Regions from separate parts of the Homo sapiens genome. Here all the other regions are linked to region 2. The links come from fine-mapping of genetic effects on gene expression. A gene starts in region 2. Each other region holds a variant in brackets. All regions are shown on one strand. Distances are from middle to middle.

What was found.
Region 1: its variant is fine-mapped to the expression of AGO2 in whole blood (INTERVAL, PIP 0.91).
Region 3: its variant is fine-mapped to the expression of AGO2 in whole blood (TOPMed, PIP above 0.99).

What each region holds. Positions count from the first base shown.
Region 1 is chr8:140,589,561-140,600,018 of GRCh38, forward strand. All of the region lies in intron 1 of AGO2 (argonaute RISC catalytic component 2), which reads right to left. Among named protein-coding and RNA genes, the nearest start is that of ERICD, 39 kb to the right of the region's middle. RefSeq lists enhancers at 3,915-4,415, 4,212-4,261, 7,243-7,582, 7,931-8,433, 8,163-8,212 and 3 more. The variant A/C (reference allele first, on the strand shown) is at 5,240.
Region 2 is chr8:140,631,362-140,641,819 of GRCh38, forward strand. It overlaps AGO2 (argonaute RISC catalytic component 2), which reads right to left and starts at 4,272. Exons shown (of 19, transcript NM_012154.5): 1 at 4,124-4,272. The coding sequence starts at 4,145. It overlaps ERICD (E2F1-regulated inhibitor of cell death), which reads left to right and starts at 2,874. Exons shown (of 1, transcript NR_170171.1): 1 at 2,874-6,922. RefSeq lists enhancers at 1,743-2,510, 2,511-3,277 and silencers at 3,084-3,133, 3,617-3,786, 4,437-4,836.
Region 3 is chr8:140,453,340-140,463,797 of GRCh38, forward strand. TRAPPC9 (trafficking protein particle complex subunit 9) reads right to left here and starts at 4,405. Exons shown (of 23, transcript NM_001160372.4): 1 at 4,300-4,405. RefSeq lists silencers at 3,950-3,999, 4,110-4,499, 4,590-4,829, 4,950-5,259 and an enhancer at 4,659-5,177. The variant A/G (reference allele first, on the strand shown) is at 4,522.

The sequences.
Region 1 (10,458 bases), 42 kb before region 2:
TGAGTCATTATTCAAAGCCATGCTTCCCGATGGTCCTCCTAGAACTCTGCATTCATTACACTGGGCATCAGCCAGAAAACGTGCAGGCCAAAGAAAGTGAGAAGGATAGCTCAGGGCTGCTAAACACTTCTGTGCCATACCCTGGGCCAAGCCAGGTGCAGATATGGTCTCTGTGATGCCAGGACAGGATGCCCTGGCCAGGCAATGGCACAGCAGCCACCGAGATCCGTGCCATCAGCACGAGCCGCAGAACAGGACGGAGTGATGGCTCAGTGAGTACAGACCAGAGAGTAGATGCTATCAAGCTGTACTCTCCTGCTAAAATCAGGACACGAGGGTGACAACTCACCTGTTGTCTACACAAGCAAGCCTCCCTTATGGCCACCCAAGTTGACGCTAAACACAGTCATGGCAGCTTTTTTGGTGAAATGGACAGAGACGGTCTCAGAATGTGTGCTGGGAATGCAGTCGGAACATCTGCTCCTGTCAGCCGGAGTGCAGACAACTGTATGCTGTCTCCCATGCCAGGCCCGGGCCACCAATGAGCCCACGGTGAGCCGAAGTCAAAGCCTCACCCAGCCCACGTTCACAGAGACGCGTCTGGCCCAGGCGTCACAGCTGTGCAGGGATGGCTGGAGCTGGGTCCCCAGCTGATGCGTTCTACCCCCTCCCCCCGGTCTGACTCCCAAACTGGGGCAAACTGACCTCGACAGGGGCTCTGGAGCCCCCCAGATCTGTGAGGACACACCAAAAGTCAAATGTGACAAGACGGGGAGGAAAAGGAACCCTCGCACTTTGGGGGTCCCAGGTCCCTGGCCACAGAAGCTGCCCAAACACGGACGCCGAGGAAGCGGAGGCACAGATGGGGGTCCCAGGTCCCTGGCCACAGAACCCATCCAAATACGGATACCAAGGAAGCAGAGGCACAGATGGGGGTCCCAGGTTTCTGGCCACAAAACCTGTCCGAAAACAGACGCCGAGGAAGCGGAGGCACAAACATGCCCCACGGTGGAAGGGAGTCAACAGAACCCACCTCGCTGGCCACCGGTCACCCACCTCCACAGGGGAGGCTGCTCCTGCCTCTAGCCAGAGCTCTGCATCAGGAAGGAAGAGTGCACCCTCCAGCCCTGAGCAGGAGCCACTGCATCAGTGCTCCTCGGAACCAGGGGCATCGTCTCAGGAGCCAGCTGATGCCACCAAGGGGGTCTCAGTGTGGCAACGGGGAGCTGGTGCACAGGCTCAGAGAATACGTTCTGGGGAATGCTGGCCATCAACCAGAGCCCTAGGGCCCCTTTGCCCTGGGGACAGATCCTGCTGCAGCCTCAGGACCTCATGGGTCCCAGCTTAGGAAATGGCCCCTACCCCTCCTCCTGTGGGCATGGGGACACAGGATGTAGCCATCCACCACTGCTCCCTGGCTGCATCCACACGCTGAGAAGGAGCTTTTGCCTTCACTCCCTTGGGCCCATGGGAAGGCTGGGTCGGAATGAAGGAGGGAAGGAAGCTCTGGGTGCAGCTCTGGGTGCAGCCCCGGGTGGGGGCAGTCCTCACAGCGGGGGCAGCGGAGCTGTCCTCAGCAGCATCTTCGCACTTCTGTTGAGCACTTCTGTGTTCTGCAGGCGCGGTTCCTGGAAGGCTTTCGTTTCTGTTCTCCCTGAGTAGAAATTATTGGAGCATTTCCAACCTGTCTCAGCCTGGTTCTTGGCAACACCAAAAGAATGGGCCATGGGAGGCAACGTGAGCAGGGGAGCAGTCACCCCAAAGGCAGGGGCTGTAGAAGGTGCTGGGCAAGGACAGCAGGGAGAACTCCCCCAGGGAAGACTGGAACGCTGCGCTGAGGCCGACACAGGCAGCCTGCGCCTCCAGATCAGACTGATGATCATCCCTAAACCACTTGCTCCCCTCTTTTGGTTTAATGAGTAATAGCCTGAAAATATGTTAACCTTATTTTAGTGAGCAATACAGCGTGCACAGGAAGAGCATGACACACCCGTACAGTCTAGGACTGACTATAAACAAACACCTAAGCTCCCGCAGATGACTAACCATCAACACGGAATTTCCTGTTGGGGTTTTTTAAAATAAATGTTTGTGGTTCAACCTGAAACTGCAACCACCATTATCTCTTTGAGAAATGGTCCTGAAAGCCACCCCTGTGATCTTTACGAAGAAAACTTTTCCCCATAAATTATGAATACATTTTTCCTCACAAGTCAAAAACATCCTCTTTGATCCACCATCTGTCTTTACTGAACAATATTAGAAATACTGTAATAAGGCCAGGCACAGTGGCTCAAGCCTGTAATCTCAGCACTTTGGGAGGCTGAGGCAGGTGGATCACCTGAGGTCAGGAGTTCAAGGCCAACCTGACCAACATGGTGAAACCTCATCTCTACTAAAAATACAAAAATTAGCCAGGCATGGTGGCAGGCACCTGCAGTCCCAGCTATTTGGGAGGCTGAGGCAGGAGAATCACTTGAACCCGGGAGGTGAAGGTTGCAGTGAACTGAGATCGCACCCTTGTACTCCTGCCTGAGCAACAAGAGCAAAACTCTGTCTCAAAAAAAAAAAAAATACTATAATAAAGACAAAGAGGAATTAAAGGAATACTGGTAAAATGTAAGTTATCTCCTACAGAAACATTCCCCAATCGGGGCAACTGATGAGACCACAGCATCTCAACCACCGGCCCTACCAAGACAGACCCGCACGCTGGTCCAGGGCTGCTCGAAGCCTGACACCTCTCAGTGGAGACATGAAGAATGCCTTATGCGTACATTTCTCTGACTCTTCTCTACAGCCTTTTCTGGTTTCAACTCTAGATTTCTTTTGTGATTCCGACTCTGTATCTGCCTCTCCCACTAGAATGTAGGCACTGCAATATAGCAAGGACTGTGTCTGTTTTTGTGCAACTGTTGACTGAATGAATACACAGATGAATAAAAGAATATCTTCTTGTTACACCAACTCTTAGTAAAAATGCCTTATGGGTTTATGACTCAATCCCAAGTGTTTTTAGGACAAAACCATAAGGTATCCATAGGAAGGCTATTACTCTACCTTTTACAAATAGTCTTTACTGTTTGTTTGTTTATTTTATATTTTATCCTTTTTAGTAGAGACAGGGGTCTTGCTATGTCACCCAGGCTGGTCTCAAACTCCTGGCCTCAAGTGATCCTCCTGCCTTGGCCTCCCAAAGTGCTGAGATTCCAGGCATGCACCACAGCACCCAGCCTGTTTCAACTAAGAAGCCAACATTTCTCCAGCATCAACATTACTCCAGTACAAGACTTCCAGCACATTCTTGTCTCTTCTCATGTCCTCGCTCTTGGACTTGTCTTCATTGCACAGCTGAGGAGCCAGGAGCTCCATGGGGTGAGGTGACAGCCAGGGCACCTGGGCAGCAGACCACAGGGCTAGGACTGTGATTTCCAGTTTGCCCCTCCACCAACATCAGCCATCAAATCAGCTGACCGCCCTGATGAGGGTCCATGTGACATCTCTTGTACTTCAGAAAGAGTCTTGTTCTCCAAACTGAATCCTTTTTTCACCCAAAACATACAAGAATCTGACCTACCTAACACATGTATGTTCCCTGAAAATATATACACCTATTACGTATCAATAAAAATAGACCAAAACTTTTTTTTTGAGATGGAGTCTCGCTGCCGCCCAGGCTGGAGTGCAGTGGCGTGATCTCAGCTCACTGCAACCTCTGCCTCCTGGGTTCAAGTGATTCTCCCACCTCAGCCTCCCGAGTAGCTGGGATTACAGGCGTGCATCACCATACCCAGCTAATGCTTGTATTTTTAGTAGGGACGGGGTTTCACCATGTTGGCCAGGCTGGTCTCAAACTCCTGACCTCAGGTGATCCACCCGCCTCGGCCTCCCAAAGTGCTGGGATTACAGGTGTGAGCCACTGTGCCCGGCCGACATACACTGATCTGCCACCCTCATGCCTCGTATCTGTGCTAAGCAGCTAGGAAAGTTAAAAAAAAAAAAAAAAAAAAACTTTGTGCCCTTTTACAGTAACTGATTCATCCTAGATACCTAGTACTTTTCTCAATATTTACATAAAATGTTTACTTCCCTTTTTAACATAAGTTCCCATAATTGAAGAAGCAATGGCCACCACCATTGTGTCAGGTACAATGCAGACCCCTTCAGGCAAATCAGCTCCTTTAATCCTTACCACGGGCAAGGCAGGCAGGATCCCCATCCTACAGATGTGGTCCGAGGTGTCTGACAGGCAGAGCTGGGATTCACACACAGCACTCACGGCTACCAGAGCACACAAGCCTTGCCACCAAGCCACGCTGCCTTGAATCGATAACAACTATGCTTAAATCAAACAAAAGGAGCTGGAGGAACCAAATGCGTGACAATCCATCCTCACCAGGTTCACTCAGTTCCATCTGCGAGCACAGGAATACCTGCCCACCAGTGAGGTCTGCCGGTGCCAAGCCCTGCACTAAGGGTTTCCTAAACTCTACCTCAACGCACGATGCCACTCACCCTACACTGCCTGAGCACCTCCTACTCCTGCTCTCAGGGCGCTCGTCTTCAGAAGAGGGCAGGGAGGAAAACCATCACCATCTCCCTGAATGGGCAGGCAAGCCACTGGCAGCACTCGGGTTGGCTGGAGGGGGCTTGCCAGTTAAGGGGACAGGAGAGAAATAACTCAGTCGGAACAATTTTCTGAATATTTGAAGGAAAAAAATAAGGTGAGCTCCCTCTCACATCCTATTACAAAATAAATTTCAAATAGAAACTGTAAATAGATAGTATTTTTAAATGGAACAAAAATATCCACAGAAATATTTTAAAATTTAATAACCTTTTATAGTTTTGGGGTGGGAATGCTCTTTCTGGGATTACAGGCATGAGCCACCGTGCCCGGCCCTCTTTCTTAGAACCAAAAAGAGGTTGCAAAAGGATGATTTTTGGCTGGGTGTGGTGTCTAACACCTGTAATCTCAGCACTTTGGGAGGCCGGGGCAGGTGGATCACTTGAGGCCACAAGTTCGAGACTAGCCTGGGAAACATGGCAAAATCCCATCTGTACAAAAAAAAATAAAAAATAAAAATAAATAGAAAATTAGCCAGTCATGGTGGCATGCCTCTGTAGTCCCAGCTACTCGGGGGTGCTGAGATGGGAGGATCACTTGAGCCTGGGGAGGTCAAGGCTGCAGTGATCCGAGATCACACCTCTGCCCTCCAGCCTGGCTGACACAGTGAGA[A/C]CCCGTCTCGACGGAAAGAAAAAAACTGTGTGTGTGTGTGTGTGTGTGTGTGTGTATTTCTCTAATTGCATGACAAACTGGGAAATTTTTATGACATCATAAATACACAAACCTAAAGGTATAAACGTACATATACAGAGTTTATATAAACTAATGAAATCAAAAACTCCAACAGGAAATGGTGAGGGATATGACTGGATAGTGCATGAGAAAAAATGGCCACTCCCATCCATGTGGGGAGATTTCAAGCTTGTTTCAGAAGGCTTTTAAAATTACAAGCCTTTTGATCTGGTAACTCAACACCTAGGCATTTGTCCTAAGGAAATACCCAGGCGTCTACACACGAAAAGACTGAGAAGGACTGAAAGGTCCATCAGGAGAAAATGGGTTAAATGAACTGTGAGGACAGTTCAGTGACACTGCTTCTCCATTGATCACACGGCAAGAGCTCCATGTACTTGTAAGTGGGAAAAAGCTTCAGAATGGTGTTTGATGCAATCCCATCTGTCCTATATTATGCACACATACACATTTGGGGTATGAAAGGGAAAACTTAAGGAAGAATTATAAAACAAAATATTTATCGTGATTATTCCTGAGTGGTCAAGCTATAGTCTTTCCACTCTTCTCTATGCTTCTATTTATTCGTTTTATATCTTATTTTATTTATTATTTTATCTTATGAGACAGAATCTCACTCTGTTGCCGAAGCTGAAGTGCAGTGGTGCGATCATAGGGCTCAAGTGATCCTCCTGTCCCAGCCTCCCAAATAGCTGGGACTACAGGCGTGTGCCATCATGCCAGGCTATATATATAATATATATATATATTATATATATATTATTTATATGCCAGGCTATATATATTATATATATAGCCTGGCATATAAAATATATATAATTATATATAAATATTATATTATATAATATGTAAATGTTATATATTATATATAATTGTATATACAATTATATTATATACAATTGTATATACAATTATATTATATACAATTGTATATATTATATTTATATTATATACAATTGTATATATTATATTTATATTATATACAATTGTATATTATATAATATATAATTATATATATTATGTATTATATAATATATATTATGTATATAAATTATATAATATATATTTTATATATAATATATATAAATTATATATATTATATAATATATATATTATATATATATACACACACACACATACACACATATTATAGAGATGGAGCCCTCCTGTGTTGTCCAGACTGGTCTCAAACTCTTGGGTTCAAGCGATCCTCCTGCCTCGGCCTCCCAAAGTGTTGGGATTACAGCGTGAGCCACTGCACATGGCCTGTGCTTCTGTATTTTTTAAGTAGGTTTATTATATTTGTTATTTAAAACTAAATTATTTTTAAAAAATGAACAAACTCTGGGAGAAGGATGAATATTGGATACATCATTCTATTTTTCTCTGATATATCCCTAAGTTAAAGAAAACAGAAGCTGGCTGGGTGTGGTGGCTCATGCCCTGTAATCCCAGCATTTTGGGAGGCCAAGGCGGGTAGACCATCTGAGGTCGGGAGTTCGAGACCAGCCTGACCAACATGGTGAAACCCCGTCTCTACTAAAAATACAAAATTAGCCGGGCACGGTGGCGCATGCCTGTAATTCCAGCTACTCGGGAGGCTGAGATGGGATAATCACCTGAACCCTGGAGGCGGAGGTTGCAGTGAGCTGAGATGGCACCATTGCACTCCAGCCTGGGCAACAAGAGCAAAACTCCATCTCAAACAAACAAAAAAGCAAAATAGAAGCTTAAGATGTAAGCACAGATAGTCATTATGCCATTTAACAGATGCCCAGAGAGATTTAAAAAGTACCCAATGCAAGATCTGCAGTGAGCCCATTTTCCCAGCGTAGTCTCACAGATGAACAAAGTGGCATCTACAGGTGAGGCAGCACGTCCGGGTCACCTGCAGGCTGGGAGGAGTCGGTGGAGCAGCAGGGGAGAGGCAAGTGGCCGGGGTGGGGGACGGGCCCACGTCATCGCATGGCTGCTGTGTCGTCGTGACCGCTGTCTCATCCTGCGAGACACAACCCTGTCCGGGAGAACTCCCCTGGTGCCCACCAGCCCAGGGGGACCTGCCTGAGGGTGCCAGCCAGCCAAGGTGCAGACAGGCACCCTGGCCCCAGAGTGCGTCCCACTGTTCTGCACCGTTGCTGGTGAACATGTTGTTTGAAATAGAAGACTAAAGCCACAAAATGGGTTTTACGTCATGGTTAAAGGGAACTCACAGAGGAACTGTATAGAAGAAAAAAAAACTCAGCAGAAGAGCTGTTTCGTTCATTTATAACCACGCCCCTGCACTGTGTCCCAGCTCTGGCAGGGACGTTCCCTCCCTCTTCACACTTGCTGGGCTGAATCATCTGCAGAGGTGGCAGGAAAACCGCCTCATTTACATACACCCTTTCCGGCAAGCACAGCCAGGGATTCCAATTCCCAGAGCCTCCCAGCCTCTCCAGTGCCAACGCAGCGCAGCACGGATGCAGGGCAGCGTGGGCAGCGGTGGCATAAGGTGCTCACACCCAGCTGGAGTTGAAGTCTGGCTGACATTACTTTCTCTGACTCCGTTTCTGGCAGCAGCCACGGACACCGATGGGGGCTGGGTGGCCCCCCCACCCCCCCCCCCCCGCCCCAGGCCTCCCTGCCTGAGTGAGGGGCCCTTTCCTGGGGGATGGCCTCCTGGCTTCAAGCCTGAATCTTGAGGATGGAAGGAGAAATAAATGAGCATTCAGAAATCTCAGGCTCACTCCTGTCAGCTTCAGCCTCACTCCTGTCAGCTTCAGCCTGATCTACAGGATTAGCTTCTGAGGCCTAATTTTAAGAGAAAAGGAATCAAGAAAAAAAAAAAAGACATCAAAAATGAAAAACTGCCATCTGAGTTCCGTCCCACAGGGTTATAACACATCTTAGCCTTTCTGCCTGTCTTGAAAAGAATAAATGTCTATTTTTATCAGCGAGGCAGCAAAATCCATCAACATCTCCTGCTCATCTGCTGAAACGCACACGCCTGTTCCACTCATCACCGGGCTGTTGCGTCATCTGCCACCTGGGAGGACCAAGAGATGACCCTGCCCACCAGGGGCCTCACAGTAGATGCCAGTGCCAGTGCCAGCAGATGCTTGGCGGGGCCCCATGCTGGGCTGTAGGGCGCACAGCTCTCCTTTCTAGGTGCCAGGTCGAACACTGAGCTTACTATTGTACAAGATCTAACCCAGGAGGGTGAGAAAGGAGGAGATGAGGCAGGACAGCAAGAGGGACTGGGGTCCCACACAGCAGCTCAGCCACTGCCGACCTCGGGGTCAGGAAACAGACACCCACAAGAGCGTCCACGACCCGTATGGGAAGATGTCTGAACCCCGAGACGGCGTGTTCTGTGCTGGAGAACAACTTCCAGGGCTTTATCCAGGTGTTCTAAAGCCACAGCACCAAAAAGAATTCTCTTCGGCAAAGGCAGCAGGACTCAACAGGAAGCAGACGTTTGCGTTCCGTTACTTGAGGAAAACCAAATGCTGCTGACATTTCTACCCAGAGAGAGTTTGCATCTCTCCTGCTTCGCAGCCATCTTTCCTACGGTTTTACCAGGAGAATGCCTAGCTCTTCTCCAACCTGTGCCAGGCCTGACACTCAGCTCCTCTGGGAGTGCCTCCATTTCCCTGTGCGTACAAGCCCACGGTGCCGTAGGATCACCGGTCCACTCTGCGCGGCAGCACCGCACCCCGGAGCCGCAGCTCTTCCTCCCGCTTGCCCGACAGCCCTGGTGCCAAGCCCTGTCTGAGCCCCACCAGGAGGAAGCGCGTGCTGGCTGCTCTCCATCTGCTCTGGGACTCTGGCCTGCTGCTTCCTCTGCCTGCCACTCCCCAACCCCGTTTCCTCCTCTGAAAACTGGAGCTACACCTGCCCCAACAGGGCAGAATTACCTTAAATGGCACAAGACAATTGTACAGCAGACCCACCTCTTCTCCAAAGTTTTCAGGGCCCAAACCCAGACACCTCCTTGCAGGACTCATGGCTACCGTGGGCTCGCACCACCAGCCTCCCCATGCGTTTTCCTGCCTCTGCTTTTGCTCAATCTGCTCAATGACAGAAACGCGACAACAGAGGCCACTTTCTCCAAACCCAGCTCTCCCTCGAGGCTCCCATCCTGCTGCTCACGCTGAGGCCACTCTACCCTGCCCTCCGCAGCTCACAGGCAGACCTGGAGCCCAGTGACTACAGGGTTGGCCTCCTCATCTTGCCACCACTCACAATGCCCAGCAGTGTTAAAATCCGGCAGGATGCACCCGCTTGGGAAGCAGTCCCCAAAGCAGAATCGTCACCACATCTGAATAGTTTCTGCCATCCCACTGACAGGCCAGCATCTAAAAGAGATGTGCGCTGAGCGTCCGTTATGTGGTGGCGTCGCTGTGGTTTCTTAACCAGAACGCAAAATCCTGTGACCAGGATTATCACCGGCTCGTTTCATACATGAGACGGGGGAAGCCAAAGTAACCACTCAGGCCACAGCAGAAAAACGCGTGCTGGAATCTGAAACAAAGTCTGTTGGATTCCAAGGGTTCAACGTCTTTTGTGATGATGAAGACGAAGCCTGCCCAAGAGCAGTCAGAGCTGAAAGAAGAAAAGCAGGAGGGCCTGTGAATGCCCCCAACCCCCTAAAACCTGCAGCTCCAGGTCCGACACTCCCAGGTTTGCGTTTTGAATTTACACTACCTATGGGGTCCAGGCCATCACCTAAGTGAGAAATTTCACACGCTCACCCGGGGTGCTCAAAGCCATCTCTCTAAATGAGGTGCCTGATGTGCAGACAACCCTTATATGATCTACATCTCTTCACCTGTCTGGAAATCAAGACCCTCTCACGATTTTTTTGTTTGTTTTTCCCCGAGACAAGGTTCTCAGTCTGTCCCCAGGCTAGAGTACAGGGGCGCAATCTCGGCTCACTGCAACCTCTGCCTTCCGGGTTCAAGCGATCCTCCTGCCTCGGCCTCCAGAATAGCTGGGATTACAGGCACCCACCATCACACCTGGCTGATTTTTGTATTTTTCGCAGAGATGGGGTTTCACCGTGTTGGCCAAGCTGGTCTTGAAATCCTGACCTCAAGTGATCTGGATCTCTCAGCCTCCCAAAGTGCTGGGATTACAGGCATGAGCCACTGTGCCCT
Region 2 (10,458 bases):
TGAAACCCCATCTCTACCAAAAATACGAAAATTAGCCGGACATGGTGGCTTAGTCCCAGCTCCTCAGGAGGCTGAGGCAGGAGAATCGCTTGAACCCGGGAGGAGGAGGAGGTTGCAGTGAGCCAAGATGGTACCACTGCACTTCAGCCTGGGTGACAGAGCGAGACTCCGTCTCAAAAAAAAAAAAAAGAAAAAAAAGAAGACGTAAATATAACAAGTCAAATGCAGGGAGAAGAGAGAGGGTGGGCTAGCTTTAGAGGCGGAAGGCAGAGACCCAAATGTGTGTGTGAACTTTGGTTAAAATTCAGGATCCAAAGCACCCAACTGGAAACACACTTCTGAGAATATGAGAGAAATTGATCACAGACTGTTAACTGTCATAACGGCACTGGGGTATGTTCAAAACGTCTCCATTGCTTTAGACACGCATATTTAAATATCGAGGTAAAATGACAGGTCTGCAATTCACTTTGGAAAACGTCCACAAAGAAAAGGGGCATATTTGAAGCAAATGTGGAGAACCCTGATGACTGCTAAAGCTTCCTAATGGATAAATGGAGGGGTATTAAATGAGTCACTCTACTTTTATGTCTTTTCAATTATTTCACAATATTAACTATTTTTAAAACTCAAATGTTATGTTTTGAAGATTCACAGTAACGATTCGTGAAACAAAACCACATTTTATGAGACTGGACCATTACAGGAGAGCATTCACTGTACAACACACAGAGAATAAGCCCAACTGGCATTGTGGAAACTTTTGACATGGAAACTAGAAGTTAAAAAATAATTCTGCTTCTTCAAATTGCACAGGGTTTAGGAGTTTGGAAGCGTTTACATCTTTTTTTCCTATGCACTTACTTAAATTATTCCCCAAGGTTTATCAAAGACCCAAGGGGGACTCTGCACAAATACCCAGCCATGCCGCGATGGCCTCGGCCATGTCAACTGCCCCACGGGTAGAGGGTGATATCCTGCCATGGCAGATGGGCACCAGTATTGGGAGAAGTGGCCATACCTTCATGGGGACCACTGAGGGAAGGGGGAGAGGGGGCAGGAGGAGTTAAATGGCTCTATAAACCACAGTGAAGTTCAGCTCTTCTCAAAGTCACAATCCTATTTAGACAACTGTCAAGTCTTAGATGTCACAGAGGTTACTTTGTGGCAAATCTGCGAGGGGTGTAACACACGGGAGCTTGAAAGTGTAGCAAAACCATAAGAGACAATATCCTGGGGGCAGGCAATCACTAGACACAGATCAAGACCTTTAAATGGTTAAAAAACCAAAAAACTAATTTGTTCATCAGTGAAGGTTCAAGGTCATTGGAGAATCCACCCATCTTAAACAACTAACTCAGTTCAAAAAACGAAAAAATAGTAACATTTCTAACTTCAGATTCTAAATAGCATTCACATACGTCACAGCATTTGTTTGTGATTGGTATAATGTAGAGCTATTGTGAACTGCTTTTTAAATTAGTAAGTTGCCTAATAAGGGTGTTACAATTGGAAGTAGCAAAACTATTTGTAATTTTTCTTTTCTTTTTTTTTTTTTTCTTGAGATGGAGTCTCCAAGTCTCACTCTGTCCCCAGGCTGGAGTGCAGTGGCGCAATCTTGGCTCACTGCAACCTCTGCCTCAAGGGTTCAAGCGATTCTCCTGCCTCAGCCTCCCGAGTAGCTGGGACTACAGGCGTGCACCACCACGCCCAGCTAATTTTTGTATTTTTAGTAGAGACGGGGTTTCATGATGTTGGCCAGGATGGTCTCGATCTCTTGACCTCGTGATCCGCCCGCCTTGGCCTCCCAATGTAATTTTTCTATAATTCAAATTGAATGTCTTATAATTCTAAATTAGAAAGTATAAGATTAAAAAGAGTCTCAATGAAGACTATTCCAAAAATTCCTTTTACACAAAATTAAAAGCCTTAATGTGTAGCATAAAATGGAACTGCACCACAGACTTATAATTACAGCACGTTTGTACAACCTGAAACTTGGGTTCATTCCCATCCTGCCATTAGCTATGAATTATCCTGCAGACACATTTATTCTTTCAACCACTGTCCTGTTCCAGAGGGTCCACTCCCTACCAGGCCCACACCAAGGCAACAATCTCCAAAAAGCAGCGAGTGACAGAAACGAGCCTGTGGATCATGAGGGCCAAGGTACGCTGAAAAATGAAATCGACAAGACAGCATCCCGGGGCAGTGCACACAGTACAGCAGTGAGCTGGGGTGGCTTCCTGAAGCCCCGCTGTCAATGACAAGTATGCGGGCAGGTGCTGGTCCAGTCCAGCCCTAACAGAGACTTCTTACTGTGGGTCTGGGTTATAGGGCTTGAAAGGGACTGCCCTGAGGAAGGCACCCAGAGAACCAGCTCGGAAGTCGGACCGATTGTCCTGATACTCACTCACTGCTGTGTGACCTTGGTGAAGTTCTCAACCTCTGTGAGCCTCGGCTGTCTGTCTTCACAAACACCACCAACCTCAGCAAGTGGAGTGAATTAAGTAACACGCAAAACACAACACAGAAAGCTTGACCTTCCTTAAAGCCTCTTCACTTTTTCTGGGCCTCCAACTTTTAAAACCGATAACCTGAAAAAATGTAGTGCTGTCAGTCCCATAAGCTGGGTTCCTCTACAAAGAGGAGCTGGAAGGTCCCAACTCACAAGGGGATGCCCGGTCCTTTCCCAAGAGGGGGCCTGGCCACCCAAGGCCTCTAGAGGCCAGCACCTGCTCCAGGACTGCGGCCCCTCCCAGGTGGAGGGGGAAAATCATTCTTCAAACTGCTGATGGCCCTCAGGGGTTGAAAAGTTGGTCAGACTCCGCCTTGTTGAAGCTTTCTAAATGACATCAGAAAAAAGACGCGACATTCGCAAGGCACAGAGCCAACAGCTCCAGCAGTGGGGGCCACCATCAACGGACCAAGGTGGGCCAGGGGGCCTTCCGGACCCCACAATTTGGGGCCGGTCTGCAGCAACGAGGGCAGCATCGGGAATGCGAGCCTCCTCGCCCGGCCGGGTAAACATAAGCCCAGAGCCCGGCGGGGCCTGCGCCGCCTGCGGCCCGGCTGGGGCCCAGCGGACAAAGGGGAGCAGGCGGTGCCCCGTCCCAGCGGCCAGGCCGGCCGAGAGAGCCAGGAGCCACGTGCCCGGTGGGAGCACGCCAAAAGCAGGAGAACACCTGACCGTTTTTTTGGCCCACCAAGGAGACCGCCTTCTACTCTGCATTTAAAAAGAAAAACAACGCGTTACCGCTTTAAGTTTTTTAGAACTTTTCCAGAGAAAGGCCGACTAGCAACAAGGGGTGCTACAGGAATCCACCTCGCCTCACCTCTCCTAGGAAATTGTAAAAGGAATTAGCACTTGAATGGGGAGGCCGGCGTGTCTGGAATGAGAACGAGCCGCGCACGCAGTTTGAGGGTTCCGGGGAGCCGCGTCCTCCCCTTTCCAGGCGACAGCCCTAACTACAGGAATTGGCCAAAATTCAGCATTTCCAGACTTTCCTTGGGAAAAGGGGCCGAAGAAGTGCCGGCAACAAGAAGGGCCACAACGGAGCGCGCCACAGACTCACCGCGGCTGGGGTCGGGACCGGCGCAGCCCCCTCCCCTCCCGCCCGTGCGCGCCCCGAGCCGGGCGCCCCGACCCGGCCTCCACCCGCTCAGGCGCTCAGGGTCAGGCCGGGCCGGGCTGCGGCGCCCCCATCCCCGCCCGGGCAGCGAGGCCGGGCCAAGCGGGGCGCTCCGGGCCTCGGGCCTACACGCGGCGGCCGCCTCGGCCCCGGCCCCAGCCCGCGGGCCCCGGGCGGGGGATGCGAGGACGCTGGGACGCGGGCCCGAGGCGCGGGAGGGGCCCAGGCCGCGCGGGGCGCCCCGACGACTCGCGGGGGCCGAGGAGGCCGGGGCTGCGCGTCCAACGCGGGGCCGAGAAAACGGCCGGCTCGGCCCCGCCGCCGCCGCTCCTCGAGCCCCCAAGCGCGGCCCCGGCTCGCCCGCCCCCGGCCCCCGCCGCCCCGACCCCGCGGCCCCCCGATCCCCGGCCCCTGCCGCCCGCGCCGGGCCCGCCAACCACGGGCAGGAGCGCGCGAACGGCCGGGCGGGCGCCCCGAGCGCCAGGACTCACCGGGGCCGGCTCCCGAGTACATGGTGGCGCCGCCGAGGGGCTCCGGGGCCGAGGGGCGGCCGCGCGCGCGCCACGGGCCCCGACGCCGCGAGCCGCGAGGGAGCCGCCGGCCGCACGATCCGCCCCGGCGCGGCCGCCTCGCCAAACAGGTTTACCCGACGCGGCCGGGGCGGCGGGCGGAGGCGGCGGCGGGAGCGGGAGCGGGAGGGGCGGGGGAGGAAGGAGGAGGGAGGGGGAGGGGAGGCGAGGCCGGCGGCGGGAGCGCGCTCGCGGGGGGAGCGGGGCTGGGCGCGCGGGCGGGGTCCGCGGCGGCGGCGGCGGCGGCGCCGGGTCTGGCGGGGCCTGGGGCGGGGACCCGGGGAGGGGCCCGGAGACCTCGCCGGGCGGTGGGAACCGCGGGCGGGAGCGGGGACGAGGGCCGAGGGCGGCGCGGCCCGTGTGGCGCGGGGGCGGGCGCGGCCCCGGGGACCCTTCACTGCCACCCAGAGAAGCCGCGTCTTCCCGACGGGGAGGAGCCGGGCCCCCCGGCTGTGCCGCCGGAGCCGGAGGGGAGGCCACGCGCCCCCGCTTTCCCCGCCGCCCCCCGGTGGGGGGCGCAGAACCCTCCCACCCTCAGCCCCTCGGCCCCCAGCCTGGCTCTTTAAGTTACTACAGAAACACGGAGGTCGGGAAGCTCCCTCCCAGCCCGGAGCTTGAACTTGAACGCGGCCGGCCGCTCGCGCAGGACCACACCGCCACCTCCCGGCGCGGCCCCAGAACCCAGATAATCCGTTTAAAGCACTGAGAAAATCTAAGAAGTTTTTAGTAAACTGTAGCTGGTATCAGGGATCAGATCAGCGGACACGCCCATTCCAGCAGTCAGGGGCCTGCTCGGACCGTCGTGCACCTCCGAGCGTTTCTGTCCGGTCCCTCTGGGTCCGTCTGGTTTTCGGAGGCTTTCCTGGAAAAGCCAGCCTGTGGCTACCTCCTTTCTCCCCTAAGTGATGGAGGATTAGAAGGCAGAGGTTGACCCACAATCTAAAGTGCCTGGTCGCCTTTTCCCAGATTTCCCGGAGCATTCCTTCACCCCGTGGCATCGGCTGTCTGCATATGGGTGCAAGGCCCTGTTCCGGGCGGAGAATAAACAGGAGTTCTGACTGACAGGAGCTCCGCAGCCAGCAGGGTGGTCACTAGTTCTCTGCAGTCTCGGAGGACAGCCCTGAAGAAGGGCAGGAGAACCAGCACTTCCTCCGAAAACTCAAAAGGACATCAGTCTTCACCAAGTTGCCGATACAAAACGTGCTCCTGAAATGTGTAGTAATGAACACCAGGAAACCTGGGTAGGAGTGTGCATGGCATTCTTCATCACCGCTTGGACTGCATGGCACTGAATACCCACGGAGAGCAGGATGGAGAAACAGTGTGCTCATATTCACAGGATGGAATCTAGCCATTCACAAAAATTCCAAAACAGGCAAAATTAAACTGCATTCTTTAGGGAAGCATCATTAAGTAGTAAATAATTGACAGAAGGGCAAGAAGGTGCTTACTCTAAGTGTCAGAATGGTGGATACAGCTGGGGGTGAGAGGGCTGTGACCACAGCAGGGCCCCTGGGGGATTTGGGGGTGCCAGGCCTGTTCCTTCCTGCAATGGTGCCCTTTGGCAGCCATCCCTTAAACTGCACTTTTACTTTATATGCTTTTCTGTACCTTTACTGTAGTATTTCACGGAAATTTTTAAATAATCATGAATGTTACCACTTTCCTATTTATGAACCATGCAACCTCATCAATCTTCCCAGTTCGCAGATGCCCACCCTCTCTCTCTGCCCCTGTCTCCTTCACATATCCCCAAAACTCGTTTTGGCCCGAAATCCCTGAGGCCCAACTGCCCTGCTGTCAGCGACTGCACGCCTCAGCAAAGGCCCAGAAGGCTCTGTCATCACTGGCTGCCCTCAGCCCGCCTTCAGCTCCTTTGAGCGCTGTGTTGGGGAACTTTGTTGCAAGGATTTCGTTCCAGAAGGCAAGATAATGTCTCTGAGGGCTTCATTGTGTCACTTCTCTTTGGATGGCGGACACCGTGGCCCTCTGCTGGCGGAGGGGTGCCATTGCTGCCTGCCCCATCTCTATCCCCAGGGCCCATGCAGTCACTGGGTTCGCCCTCTGGGGCACGGGGTTCCCTCTGCTCTTTTCCTAGATAAGCCCATTCTCTGCAGGTCTCTACCCTCCACACCTGTGTTCAGGAATTCAGCCCGCTTCCTGCAGCCCCATCCCTACCCTCCTCCCAACCTGCTTTTCTTCTGGTGTCCCTCACTCAGCATGGCTAACAGATCCACCACCCAACGGAGCTGAGAACTGCAGTCCCCTCTGCCTGTTACCTCTCCTGCCATTAGTGAACCTGCTTAACTCATCTGACTGTGCGTCTCGGTGCTTGCTGTGACATGTCTCCAGCCCTTGCTGCTCTGTCCCCCAGACCCACGTCCCACACCCGGATGGTGACTCAGCCGACTCTGGGTCTTCTGGACCCAGTGCTTCTCCCTGATACAATTCCTTCCTCTGTGTTTTAGGATCCTGATGCTTTGATAAGACCGTGGGCTCTAATCACAGCCAGGGACATTTGCAGCAGCCTGGCCTGCAGCTCTGCACACTGGGTGCACTCAGTCTAAAGCACCAGCTCCCCATGAGAGAGAAAGAAGGGGTGAGGGGAAGTACAGAGAAAGCTCCTGAGGCCACAGGGCTGACAAAGCCCTCGGCTTTGGGGGCACTTTGTTTCTTCAAGACTAAAATGCAGGCAATGGAATAAATCATTTGTTCCTAAAACATGTTCTGCACATGATTAAAGCAGCTTTGGGAAGTCAAGTAAATTGGGAAGCACTGGATCAAACAATGATAAATAAGTTTATTGTCTGCAGGCCTTCTCAGAGCCTGTAGCAAGGTGAGAAGAATCATGCTTCTACAAAGAGGAAGGAGGGCATGAGACAGTATGCAACCTGTCCCAAACCCATTTAGCCACAGAACCCTTTTTTCACGAGGTACCTCAAGGTTCCGTGGAGCATAATTTAGGAAACACAGAGGTAGAGGTCTTCTATGATCCCTTCCAGCTCTAATAGTCTATGATTCTTTGAGTAATATATACTTTGAGACAGGATCACCAAAGTGAAAGTGTAGTGGCGAAAACACAGCTCATTGCAGCCTTGACTTCCCAGGCTCAAGTGATCCTCCCACCTCAGCCTCCTGAGCAGCTGGGACCACAGGTGCATGCCACCATGCCTGGCTAATTTTTAAAAACTTTTGTAGAGACAGGTCTCACTGTGTTGCTCAGGTTGGTCTTGAACTGCTTGGCCCAAGTGATCCTCCCACCTTGGCCTCCTCAAAGTGCTGGGATTACAGGCATGAGCCACTACACCTGACCTTATTTTTTTTGTTTTTGTATTTTTCTAGACAGGGTCTCACTCTATTGCCCATGCTGGAGTGCAGTGGTGCAATCATAGCTCACTGCAGCCTCCTGGACTTAAATAATCCTCCTACCTCAGCCTCCCAAGTTACTAGGACTACAAGAGTATCCCACCAGGCTCAGCTAATCTTTGTAGAGATGATGTTTCACCATATTGTCCAGGCTGGTTTCAAATTCCTGGGCTCAAGTGATCCACCAGCCTCAGCCCCCAAAGTGCTGGGACTACAAGTGTGAGACACTATGCCCAGACTGGTTTTTTGTTTTGTTTTGTTTTTTAATTAAAAACTAAGCAGGTGGCTCACGCCTGTAATCCTAGCACTTTGGGAGGCCAAGGCAGGTGGATCACGAGGTCAGGAGATAGAGACCATCCTGGCTAACACGGTGAAACCCTGTCTCTACTAAAAATACAAAAAATTAGCTGGTTGTGGTGGCACGCGCCTGTAGTCCCAGCTACTCGGGAGGCTGAGGCAGGAGAATCACTTGAACCTGGGAGGCGGAGGTCGCAGTGAGCCGAGATTGTGCCACTGCACTCCAACCTGGAGGACAGAGCGAAACTCCATCTGAAAAAAAAAAAAAACTAAGCAGGCCATATGCAGTGGTTTGTGCCCAAAGTCTCAGTGCTTTGGGAGGTCAAGGTGAGAGGATTGCTTGAGGCCACGAGTTCCAGACCAGCCTGGGGACCCCATCGCTACAAAATAAAAAAAAATTAGCTGAACATGGTGGCACACATCTGTAGTCCCAGCTACTCAGGAGACTGAGGTGGGAGGATTGCTTGAGCCCAGGAGGTCGAGGCTGCAGTGAGCTATAACTGTGCCACTGCATTCCAGCCTGGGTGACAGAGTGAGACCCTGTTTCAGAAACAAAACAAAAACAGGCCATGATAACCTCTTTAAAATCTGCCAGTGCCATCCTCCACTGGGTCTGCCAGCTGGGCCCCCTTTGCAGGATAGGGTGGAGGGGCCTGGATGTGGTGTTCCCTTGACTGGTGAGCGTGTCTGAATACAGGCCACACCTTCTGCTTCTTCAGGTAACCATCTCTAGACAAGAGGTACTTCATTTTGGCCCTCTGTTTCCTCTCAAGTTGCCATTTTTTTTTAATTTTTAATTTTAAGACAGTGCCTTGCTCTGTCTCCTAGGCTGGAGAGCAGTGGTGCCATCTCGGCTCATTGCAGCCTTCGCCTCCTGGGTTCGAGTGATTCTCCTGCCTCAGCCTCCCCAGCAGCTGGGATTACAGGCGCATGCCACCACACCCGGCTAATTTTTTGTATTTTTAGTAGAGATGGGGTTTCATCATGTTGGCCAGGCTTGTCTTGAGCTCCTGACCTCAAGTGATCTGTCTGCCTTGGCCTCCCGAAGTGCTGGGATTACAGGCGTGAGCCACCATGCACAGCCAAACTGCATTCTTTTTGTTTGTTTTATTATTTTTTTTCTTTTCAAACTGTATTTTTTTCAGGCAGGCATTGATCTCTGCTTTTTAGTCTGGCACACTTACTTACAGCCCCCTAAATTTAACTCTGAATCTAGTTCCTCTTCAAAGGATGGTGTCTCACCTATGAGGTGTGGGTGCCCTTGCCTTCCTTTGCCCCAGCCTGAGGACAGCTGGTGTTTCTTTTTTTTTTGAGATGGAGTCTCGCTCTGTTGCACAGGCTAGAGTGCCAGTGGTGCAATCCCAGCTCACTGCAACCTCCACCTCCCGGGTTCAAGCGATTCTCCTACCTCAGCCTCCTGAGTAGCTAGGAGTACTGGCATGCGCCACCATGCCCAGCTAATTTTTTGTATTTGTAGTAGAGACGGGGTTTCACCATATTGGCCAGGCTGGTCTCGAACTCCTGACCTTGTGATCCGCCCGCCTTGGCCTCCCAAAGTGCTAGGATTACAGGCGTGAGCCACCACGCCTGGCCCAGCTGGTGTTCCTAAGCATGATGTGAAGACCACCCAGAGCACATGAGAGATGCTGCCACAAATTGTTTAAGGTCAAGAGTTACAAATTCATCCCAATGCATCTTCTACAAAGTCCTTGGGAGATTTGTGTGGATGTGGTGTATCCAGCTTGTAGCATTTTCTGGAGTTAAAAGAGATAAATAAAAGCTATCTTTCACTAAAGATGGTGGCTTACACCTGTAATCCCAGCACTTTGGGAGGCTGAGGTGGGCAGGTGTCTTGAGCACAGTTTGAGATCAGTGTGGGCAACAGAGTGGGACCCTATCTCTACAAAAAATACAAAAATTAGTGGGACATGATTGTGTGCTTGTAGTCCCAGCTACTCAGGAGGCTAAGGTAGGAGATCACCTAAGCCCTCAGGGAGGCTGAGGATGCAGTGAGCTGTGATTGTACCACTGCGCTCTAGTCTGGGTGATAGAGCAAGACGCTGTCTCAAAACACACACACACACACACACACACACACACACACACACACAAAACAGCAACCTATCTTTCATAGGAGGAGAAACATTAAGTAAAAATTGTCAAAGAAGCCAAGTATATAATGATGTAAACAAGTGTCAATTTTTAGCTTTCCACAATGACTCCTTTATACTATCATTCTTACCTAGTATCATGTTTCTTTGAAATAATATACTGATACATTGTTTAGCAAAGATTTTGGCTGTAAGACCAATATTTTAAAATTAACCATAATTCTATATACTAATGACAATTAAAAATAAAAATTTATTTATTTTTGAGACAGATTCTCACTCTGTCACCTGGGCTGGAGTGCAGTGGCATGATCTTGGCTCACTGCAACCTCCGCCTCCCGGGTTTGAGCAATTCTCGTGCCTCAGCCCCCCGAGTAGCTGGGATTGCAGGCGTGCACAACCACGCCTGGCTAATTTTTGTATTTTTAGTAGAGACGGGGTTTTGCCATGATGGCCAGGCTGGCCTCAGATGATCCACCCACC
Region 3 (10,458 bases), 180 kb before region 2:
CCCAAAACTGCATAACCTTCAGGTCACCAAAGCCTGACTGCAGAGATCGTGGCAGTAAAACCCTCCCAGGTGACACTAAGATTAAAGTGACATTGCTATAAGACCTCTGTGAAATTCTAATGGCAAGCTTCTCACCTGCACGGAGAGGAGGAGGACTGTGTGTCGGGGGCTATCCTGGACATCACAACCCCACCTCTACAGACTTCAAAAATACACATGGATAGAGAAGTATGAACAAAATTAAATTTTAAAAAAAGGAAACCCTAGCCTCCCAACATGTCTTGCTTCTGCCCAGGATCTAAACGGTTCACAAGTATATTACATGTGTGTGACTCAGCCCAAGTCCCTGACTCCAGTGCTCACGCTCTCAAGGACGACGCCCCACTCTCTCCTGCCCTTTCCCCACAACGATTCCCTAAAGAGTCTTTTCTGCACACAAAAACCACCTTCGAAAGAACCAAAATCACATCACCTTCCAACAAAGAGGCATAAAACCCCTCGGAGGACATATCAAAATACTGAGCGGGGGAGACTGGAGCGCTCATGTTTCTCAAAAGTAGGCACAGGTTTAACAGAAGCTGAGAAACACCGAAGCCTTCATTCTACAGAGGAGGAGAGCGCGGCCCACCGCAGGTAACAAAGGGCCTTATTTTAGAAGTATCATCTCGGCCAGACACGGTGGCTCACACCTGTAATCCCAACACTTTGGGAGACAGAGGCGGGAGGATCACTTGAGGTCAGCAGTTAGAGACCAGCCTGGTCAACATGACAAAACCCCATCTCTATTAAAAATACAAAAATTAGCCAGGAGTGGTAGCACACACCCGCAGTCCCAGCTACTCCAGAGGCTGAGGCAGGAGAATTGCTTGAACTCAGGAGGTGGAGGAGGCAGTGAGCCAAGATCACAACACTGCACTCCAGCCTGGGTAACAGAGCGAGACTCCATCTCAAAAAAATTAATAAATAAAAATGATTTAAAAATAAAAACTATCGTCTCATCTAAAAAGCAGCATAATCAGCCGGGTGTGGTGGCTCACACCTGTAATCCCAGCACTTTGGGAGGCGGAGGCAGGCAGATCACTTGAGGTCAGGAGTTGGAGACCAGCCTGACCAACATGGAGAAACCCGGTCTCTAATAAAAATACAAAAAATTAGCCAGGCGTGGTGGCGCATGCCTGTGATCCCAGCTACTCAGGAGGCTGAGGCAGGAGAATCGCTTGAACCCAGGAGATGGGGGTTGCAGTGAGCCGAGATCACGCCACTGCACTCCAGCCTGGGCAATAAGAGTAAGACTCCCTCTCAAAAAAAAAAAAAAAAAAAACACAACCTGACCTCACACCTGTGATCTCAACACTTTGGGAGGCCAAGTCGAGTGGATCGCCTGAGGTCAGGAGTTCGAGACCAGCCTGGCCAACATGGCAAAACCCTTTCTCTACTAAAAATACAAAAATTAGCCAGGCTTGGTGGCATGCACCTATAATTCCAGCTACTTGGGAGGCTGAGGCACGGGAATCGCTTGAACCCAGGGAGGAGGAGGTTACAGTGAACTGAGATCACACCACTGCACTCCAGCCTGGGTGACAAAGTAAGACTCTTTAAAAAAAAAAAAAAAAAGACACCTGCCACTGAGCCAGTTCTGGTATCTGAGACTAAGCTAATACAGGTATTAAAACAGCAAAAATATGTATCTTCAACTTGGTAGTTCCTCCATAGAGCTACTATAAAACCAGCAATCCAAGAGATCTGAAAACATGTGTCCACACCAGAAACATGTACAGGAATGTACATAGCAGTATTATTCCTCTTTTTCTGAGATGGAGTTTCGCTCTGTCACCCAGGCTGGAGTACAGTGGCAGGATTTCAGCTCACCTCAACCTCTGCCTCCCAGGTTCAAGCGATTCTCATGCCTCGGCCTCCCGGGTAGCTGGGACTACAGGCGTGAGCCACCATGCTCGGCTAATTTTTGTATTTTCCGTGGAGATAGGGTTTTGCCATGTTGTCCAGGCTGGTCTCGAACTCATGATCTCAGGTGATCCACCCGCCTCAGCCTCCCAAAGTGCTGGGATTACAGGCACAACATTATTCTTGTTTTTTGTTTGTTTGTTGTTTTGAGATGGAGTCTCACTCTGTCGCCAGGCTGGAAAGCAGTGGCGCGATCTCGGCTCACTGCAAACTCCGCCTCCCAGGTTCAAGGGATTCTACTGCCTCAGCCTCCCAAGTAGCTGGGACTACAGGCGCCCACCACCATGCCCAGCTAATTTTTGTATTTTTAGTAGAGAGGGGGTTTCACCATGTTGGCCGGGATGGTCTCGATCTCTTGACCTCGTGATCTGCCCGCCTCGGCCTCCCAAAGTGCTGGGATTACAGGCGTGAGCCACCATGCCTGGCCAGGCACAGCATTATTCTTAATAGCTAAGGAGTGAAAACAACACAAATGTCCATCAACTGCCTGATACACAAAATGTTAAATCTATACAATGGAATATTATTCAGCCACAGAAAGGAACAAAGTGCTGATGTAAGCCACAACATGAATAACTTTAGAGCACTGTGCTGAATGAAAGAAGCTAAATACAAAAGGCCACATGTTGTATGATTCCATTAATAGGAAATGCCCTGAATATGCAAATCTATATATATCGAAAGTAAACCGGTGGCCGCCAGGGGCTGTCGGAGGGGGGAATGAGGAGTGACTGCTAATGGGTATGGAGTTTCTTTCTGGGGTGATGAAAATGTTCTGGAATGACAATGGTAACACAAGTGTGAATATACTAAAAATTACTGAATTGGCCAGGCATGGTGGCTCACGCCTGTAATCCCAGTACTTTGGGAGGCCAAGGCGGGTGGATCACGAGGTCAGGAGTTCGAGAGCAGCCTGGCCAACAGAGTGAAACCCCGTCTCTACTAAAAATACAAAAAAAATGTAGCCGGGCATGGTGGCAGGCACCTGTAATCCCAGCTACTCAGGAGGCTGAGGCAGGAGAATCGCTTGAACCCAGGAGGCGGAGGGTGCAGTGAGCCAAGATCGTGCCATTGCACTCCAGCCCAGGCGACAGTGCGAGACTCCGTCTCAAAAAAAAAAAAAAAAGAAAAATCACTGAATTGTACACTTTAAAGCAGTGGATTTTATGGCAGGTAATCGAGGCTCAATGAAGCTGTTATTTTTGACACACTAGATTTCTGAAACATTTATTGTTTACATGTTTCCGGACAACTGTTTTTCCCTCTACACTACTAGTCCTCCACACAATTAAAAAAACGAACAAACACACACAACAAAACCTAGCCAGATCTTTAGGACGGCAATGTTCCTGGGCCTCCAACATCATCCACCCGGTGCTTTGTTTCAGGTTAACAAATAAAGATGTCATAGGTAGCTATGACTACCTTAGAAACACGGGACAGTCACCAGTTTAAACTGGGGCCGTGAGGGATGGAAGGGAAGTCACTCCCCCATACCTTTCAACTGGGCCTTGCTTCCAGCGTTTTAATTCCTCTCTCTATAGAAACATTTGAAGACAGACAACGCATCCTAACACGGGAAAACTTTCGGTTAACAGACATTCACGTTGGGAAGGTCTGCAGGGGTGGAGGGGATTGGGGTGGGCTGACAGGGAGAAGACCACAGGCCAGTAGCCTGACTTCCTCTCCCCAGGGTTCCCTGGGATAAGTTGGAGTTGACAGCGCGCTTATCCCAGAGAGCACCGCCTGATGCCGCCCAGCTAGATCGCAGGCACTTTGAATCCAGGAGACAGGAGGGAAAGGGCTAGGGGAGAAGTCCGGGAACTCAGGGCGGGGAAAGCGCCGGGGGCGTGGGCTGTGCTGGGCCCCAGGCCCCAGCCGCGCGTCCCAGACCCCGCGGGCTCCAGTGGGCTTAGCCAGGCCCAGGGGCGGGGGGCTCCAGCGCCGCGGACGGCCCGGGAGGGGAAGCCAGGCGGAGACAGCTCGGAGGCACAGAGGGGAAGGGGACCCCCGCCGCGAGCTCGGGAGAGCAGAGCCGGCCCGGGCAGCAGGTGTGGGCCGGGTCCCGGACAGGTGTCCGCCGAGTCTTCAGCGGGTGTGGGACACGGCCTTGGACAGATGTAAGCAGAGCGCCAACAGGAGCAAGGGCGCCTCGAGCAGGTGCACGCTGAACCCCGGCCCGGCAGCGGACCCGGACAGGTGTGGCGGGCTCCGCCCGGACAGGTGAGGGCCGGGCGAGCCCCTCCGCGGGACGCGCCGACTCCACGGCCAGCCGCGCAGCCCTCCCCGCAGCCGGTCCGAATTGCCTGACCGGGAGCCCCCCCGCTTTGCACTTACACAGCCGGTGGCCCCGGGCCCGGAGCGGGAGCCCACGACCTGGCGGGCAGCGGGGCCGAGCAGCCTCTGCGGCCACTTCCCAGGCTCTGGGCTGGCGCTTCCTACTGGCGGCCGAGCCGGCGCTGCTCCTGCGCGTGCGCGGAGGCCAGGCCTGGGCCCCCGATCCGTCCCGGGTTTTGCAAGAGACGCGAGGGAAGCAAGGGGGTAGGAGCGAGGGAGAAA[A/G]GAGGAAGGAGGAGCGAGGGAGAGAAGAGGGGACAGGGAGGGAGGGGACATGGGGAGGGAGGAGGAGGAGGGAGGAGGGAGAGAAAAAGGTGGGGTGAAAGAAGGAGGGAGGAGGAGCGAGGGAGAGAAGCGGGGACGGGGAGGGAGGAGGAGGAGAGTAGGAGGAGGAGGGGTGAAAGAAGGAGGGAGGGGCAGCGAGAGAGAGAAGCGGGGGACAGGGAGAGGGTGGAGGAGGGAGGAGGGAGGGAAAAAGGAGGGGTGAAAGGAGGGAGGAAGAGGAGGAGGGAAGGAGGGAGATGGAGGGAGATGGAGCGAGGAGGGAGGGAGGGACCGGAGCAAGAGAACAGAGACTAGGAGGAAAGCTTCTGCACCTGGGGCGGCGCAGCTGGAAGGAGGCCCAGTTCTGTCCCCGCCGCTTACCAGTCCTTCAGGGCGCGCAGCTCAAATTTCACTTCCTCTGTGAAGCTCAGGGGTGGAGGCCCCGCGGAAGCCCACTGTGGATCCCTGCGGCACCCCCTGTGACCCTCACGGTACCCCCCGTGACTCCCACGGTCGTGCCCCCCACGTGGGTGGGTGACCGTGGCGCGCGCGGCCTGGGAGCGCCTCCAGGATCGCAGGGCCCGGGAGGCACGTGAGGTGCGAGCCCCAGCCTGGGCCGGCTTCCCCCTGTGTGGCGCGCGGTCTTGATCCCCAGCTGGCACCATGGCACTCCCGACTTTGAGGGCCCCAACAATCCATCCACATAAAAGGTTCCAAAGAGGCGACAGGGGCTAGGACAGCTGTCGTTAGTTCAGTGCCAAGGCGCCAAGCTTGCTAAGTGCGGGCAGAAGCCATTTAAGGATTTAAACCCCTCTGGGTTCAAAAATAAAATAAAATAAAGCAGGAGATGGGGGAGGCTTACAGACTTAAGATGCCCAGCACATGAATTAACAGTGGCATCCGCAGGGAAAATTGAAAACAGAGAGCCGCTCTCCGTTATGTATGTTTAATGTTCTGTTTGAATCTTTTAACATGTACATGTATTTCTTTTTCAATTAAAAAATCCTGGCCAGGAGAAATGGCTCACACCTGTAATCCCAACACTTTGGGAGACTGAGGCGGGTGGATCACTTGAGGTTAGGAGTTCAAGACCAGCCTGGCCAACATGGTGAAACCCCGTCTCTACTAAAAATACAAAATTAGCCAGATGTGGTGGCGCGCGCCTGTAATCCCAGCTACTCAGCAGGCTGAGGCAGGAGAATCGCTTGAACCTGGAAGACAGAGGTTTCAGTGAGCCGAGATCATGCGATTGCACTCCAGCCTGGGCAACAACTGCAAAACTCTATCTCAAACAACAACAACAACAAACACTAAAAAGGGCTGGGTGTGGTGGCTCACACCTGTAATCTCAGCACTTCGGGAAGCCAAGGCGGGTGGATCACCTGAGGTCAGGAGTTCAAGATCATCCTGGGCAACATGGTGAAACTCCAGTCTCCACTAAAAATACAAAAATTAGTTGAGCGTGGTGGTACATGCCTGTAATCCCAGCTACTAGGCAGTCTGAGGCAGGAGAATCTCTTGAACCCGGGAGGCGGGGGCTGCAGTAAACCAAGATCACACCACTGCACTCCAGCCTGGGTGACAGAGAGAGCCCATCTCAAAAAAAAAAAAAAAAAAAATCCTAAAATGGAAAAGTAAAGAGGACAGGAGTGGTTTTCTCAGCACATACAGCAGCAAGGGAGAAATGGTCTGAGCCAGCATTTTTCCTTTCAGCCAGCAGGCACTTACCCGCTCTGGGCTATGTGACCAGGGCTGTTTTATTATCACATGTGTTATAAAATAAGATACTATCCCTCATCCCTGCTCAGGGCTAGTGGAAAACCAATTGAGTTTTTATTGAATTATTTTCTACAGAGTCAGAATGAGTTATAAATAAAACATATCTTCAGGGCAAAACAAATAGAGCTGATTTCCAGCCTGCCAGACAGCCAGGAAGTTTTCAACAGAGGTGCCCAGGGGCTGAGGAAGAGTGTCTCCCTGACAACGCACAAGCTGCCCAACGTGGCTACCTCATGGTGTTACGACCGCATGGAGGCCGTGCAGTGGCTCACAGCTGTAATCCCAGCACTTTGGGAGGCCGAAGCAGACGGATTGCTTGAGCCCAGGAGTTTAAGACCAGCCTGGGCAACACAGGGAAACTCTGTCTCTTGGAAAAAATACCAAAATTAGCTGGGCAGGATGGCACAAACCTGTAGCCACAGCTACTCAGGAGACTGAGGCAAGAGGATCGCTTGAGTCCAGCCAGGTCGAGGCTGCAGTAAACCATGATCACTCTAGCCTGGGAGAGACAGCAAGACCCTGTCTCAAAAAAAAAGTGGTTTTTTTTATTTTTTTTAAATGAATAAATAAACAAAAGAGCGTATGGGCTTAACAGAGAATACAGAAAAGATACATTTAAAAGGCCACTGCTAATGGAGGTCTGAGTGCAGAAACTAGGCTCCAAGCTTACCTCATAAGATCCAAGCAAGGGAGCTATTTTTAGTGCTGAAGTCCAGAAAGGATACCCTACTTGGCTGGGGTCACACAAATGGCTGGTGCTATTTAGGGATTCAAATCCAGGGCTGTCAGACCCCACAGACTCTACTTTTTGCATAGGTCTTTTCTTATTCTGTCTGTAAGTGGATAAGGCAAGCAACTTGGAAAGCAAGATTGAAAGCTGGCAAAAGGAAACATTGCTTATTTGCAATGTACACACTTCAATCAATTTATGTTGCTGTCTCAGCAAATCTGTGGGGGAAGGAGAGCGGGGACTATTATTCTGCTTTTTTTTAAATTTATTTATTTACTTTTTTGAGACAGAGTCTCACTCTGTCACCCAGGCTGGAGTATAGTGGCACGATCTCAGCTCACTGCAACCTCCACCTCCCGGGTTCACGCGATTCTCCTGCCTCAGCCTCCTGAGTAGCTGAGATTACAGGTGCGCGCCACCACACTCGGCTAATTTTTGTATTTTTAGTAGAGACGGGGTTTCACCGTGTTGGTCAGGCTGGTCTCGAACTCCTGACCTCATGATCCTCCCACCTCGGCCTCCCAAAGTGCTGGTATTATTACTCTGCATTTTTACCAATGAGAAAACGGAGGCTCAGAGAGTGTAAGAGCCTGCCACAGCCCAGCCCACAATGATCAAATGAGAACATCCAAAGCAGTCCCCGTACTGTCTAGGTCCTGGGGCTGTGCTCCTTTAGCATCTTTAACATTTCCTAAGCATCTCCTCTGAAGGGTGACAATTCAAACATACAAAACCTGCCCTCAAGGAATTTACAGACATCTAAGGTTGGAAGGAATTTCTAAAATAACCAGGTCCAACCTCATACTCACACTCTCTCCCCTCTACAAAAGTCCTAACAGGCAGAATGCTTTGATGATGTGGCTATTTGTCTTAGTTGGTTTGGGCAGATATAAGAAATTACTAGAACAACACTGAGATCAGGGCGCCAGCATGGGTAGGGTGTGATGAAGGTCATCTTCTGAATGGCAGATGGCTGGCTTCTTGTATTTTCACATGACAGATAGAGAGCAAACTAGCTGTCTGGTCTCTTTTTTTTTTTTTTTTTTAAGATAGAGTCTCACTCTTGTTGCCCAGGCTGGAGTGCAGTGGCGCAATCTCAGCTCACCACAACCTCCACCTCCTGGGTTCAAGCGATTCTCCTGCCTCAGCCTCCTGAGTACTTGGGATTACAGGCATGCACCTCCACACCCAGCTAATTTTTTGTATTTTTTAGTAGAGACAGGGTTTCTCCATGTTGGTCAGGCTGCTCTCAAACTCCCGACCTCAGGTGATTCGCCTGCCTCAGCCTCCCGAAGTGCTGGGATTACAGGCATGAGCCACCGCACCCGGCCTAATTTTGTATTTTAAGTAGAGGCACAGTTTCACCATGTTGGCCAGGCTGGTCTCGAACTCCTGACCTCAGGTGATCCACCTGCCTCAGCCTCCCAAAGTGCTGGGATTACAGGCATGAGCCACCGTGTCCAGCCTGGTCTCTTCTTAGAAGCGCACTAATCCCATTCATGGGGGTTCTGCCCTTATGACCTAATTACCTCCCAAAGGCCCCACATCCATATATGATCATATTGGGGAATAAATTTAAACATATGAATTTGGGAAGAACATGAACATTCAGTTCATAACAAGCTCTACAAGAAAATTATCCAGTAAACTCAGCCAGAATATGCTTCCCTGAAACATCCAGTCAAGGGGTCTCAAGAAATAGGACCAAGCTGGCCTCGGTATCTCATGTCTGTAATCCCAGCATTTTGAGAGGCCAAGGAGGGAGGATTGTTTGATCCCAGGAGCTAGAGATGAGCCCAAGCAACATAGCTAGACCCCATCTCCACACAAAATTTAAAAAATAGCCGGCACGATTGTGCACACCTGTAGTCCCAGCTACTTGGGATGCTGAGGTGAGAGGATTGCTTGAGCTCAGAAAGTCAAGGCTATAGTCAGCTCGATCGTGCCACTGCACTCCAGCCTGGGAGACAGAGCAAAGAGTGAAACTCTGTCTAAATATATATACACACACACATACACACACACACATATAATATATATATAATCTATATATGGGACTAATGCCCCACAAGGCTTGCTGAGGTTGACAATTATCACAGCTGTGAGTTAAAAGTACAGGCTGGGACAGGTACGGTGGCTCATACCTGTAATCCCAGCACTTTGGGAGGCCGAGGCAGGTGGATCACGAGGTCAGGAGTTTGACACCACCCTGGCCAACATGGCAAAACCCCGTCTCTACTAAAAATAATAATAATAATACAAAAATTAGCCGGGCGTGGTGGTGGGCGCCTGTAATCCCAGCTACTCGGGAGGCTGAGGCAGGAGAATCACTTGAACCTGGGAGGCAGAGGCTACAGTGAGCAGAGATCGTGCCACTGCACTCCAGCCTGGGCAACAAGAGCAAGACTCCGTCTCAAAAAAAAAAAAAAAAAGTGCAGGCTAGACTCCAGCCTGGGCAACAGTGTGAGACCCTATCTCAAAAAAAAAAAAAAAAAGTTTAGGACAGAGTCCCTGCTCCATCACTCCCTAATTACTTGCCTTCCATATTTTCAGTTATTATATAAGGATAATCATTTCATAGGGCTATCATTAGGATTAAAGAAAGTGTGAGAAGGCAATTTGAGACAGAATGGACAAATTCTGTCACATGCTACTTGTACAGCCTCAGGGTAAGGTGACCATATAGCTTTACTTTCCTGGTACAATTCCAGCTTATGTCCTGGCTAACGGTGTTCCGGTTGGGTGATCCAATCACTCCACTTTGCACAAAAGCCAGCACCTCTCAAGGGTTTTGATCCCCCACCAGTACCATAAAGAGTTTCTTCTCCTTCCCGTGTTATAGGACTCCATAGTGTCATGTCTCACCTGGGCTTTCTAGCTCACAGGCTATGGAGGGAAAAAATAACTATACTTATTTAGCACAACTAAGAACCAGCTACTTGGTTAGACCTTCATAACTCTTCCTTCAAAATAACACGATGGTAACTACCATTTACAAAACTTTTTTTTATCTTTTTTTTTTTTTTTTGAGACAGGGTCTTGCTCTGTGGCCCAGGCTGAAGCGCAGTGGTGCGATCTTGGCTCACTGTGGATCCTCTTCCTCCTGGGCTCAAGCCAACGTCCCACTTCAGCCTCCCATCATGCCCGGCTAATTTTTGTAAATTTTTTTGTAGAGGCAGGGTTTCCCTACGTTGCCCAGGCTAGTCTGGAACTCCTGAGCCCAAGTGATCCGCCCGTCTCGGCCTCCCAAAGTGCTGGGATTACAGGCGTGAGCCACCGTGCCCGGCCTCATTTATGAAACTCTTATCTGGCAGGCAATGTGCAATGTGCTTGGCATAAATATCTCATATCCTCACAATAATCGTGTAAGGAAGAAACTCGGACTCAAC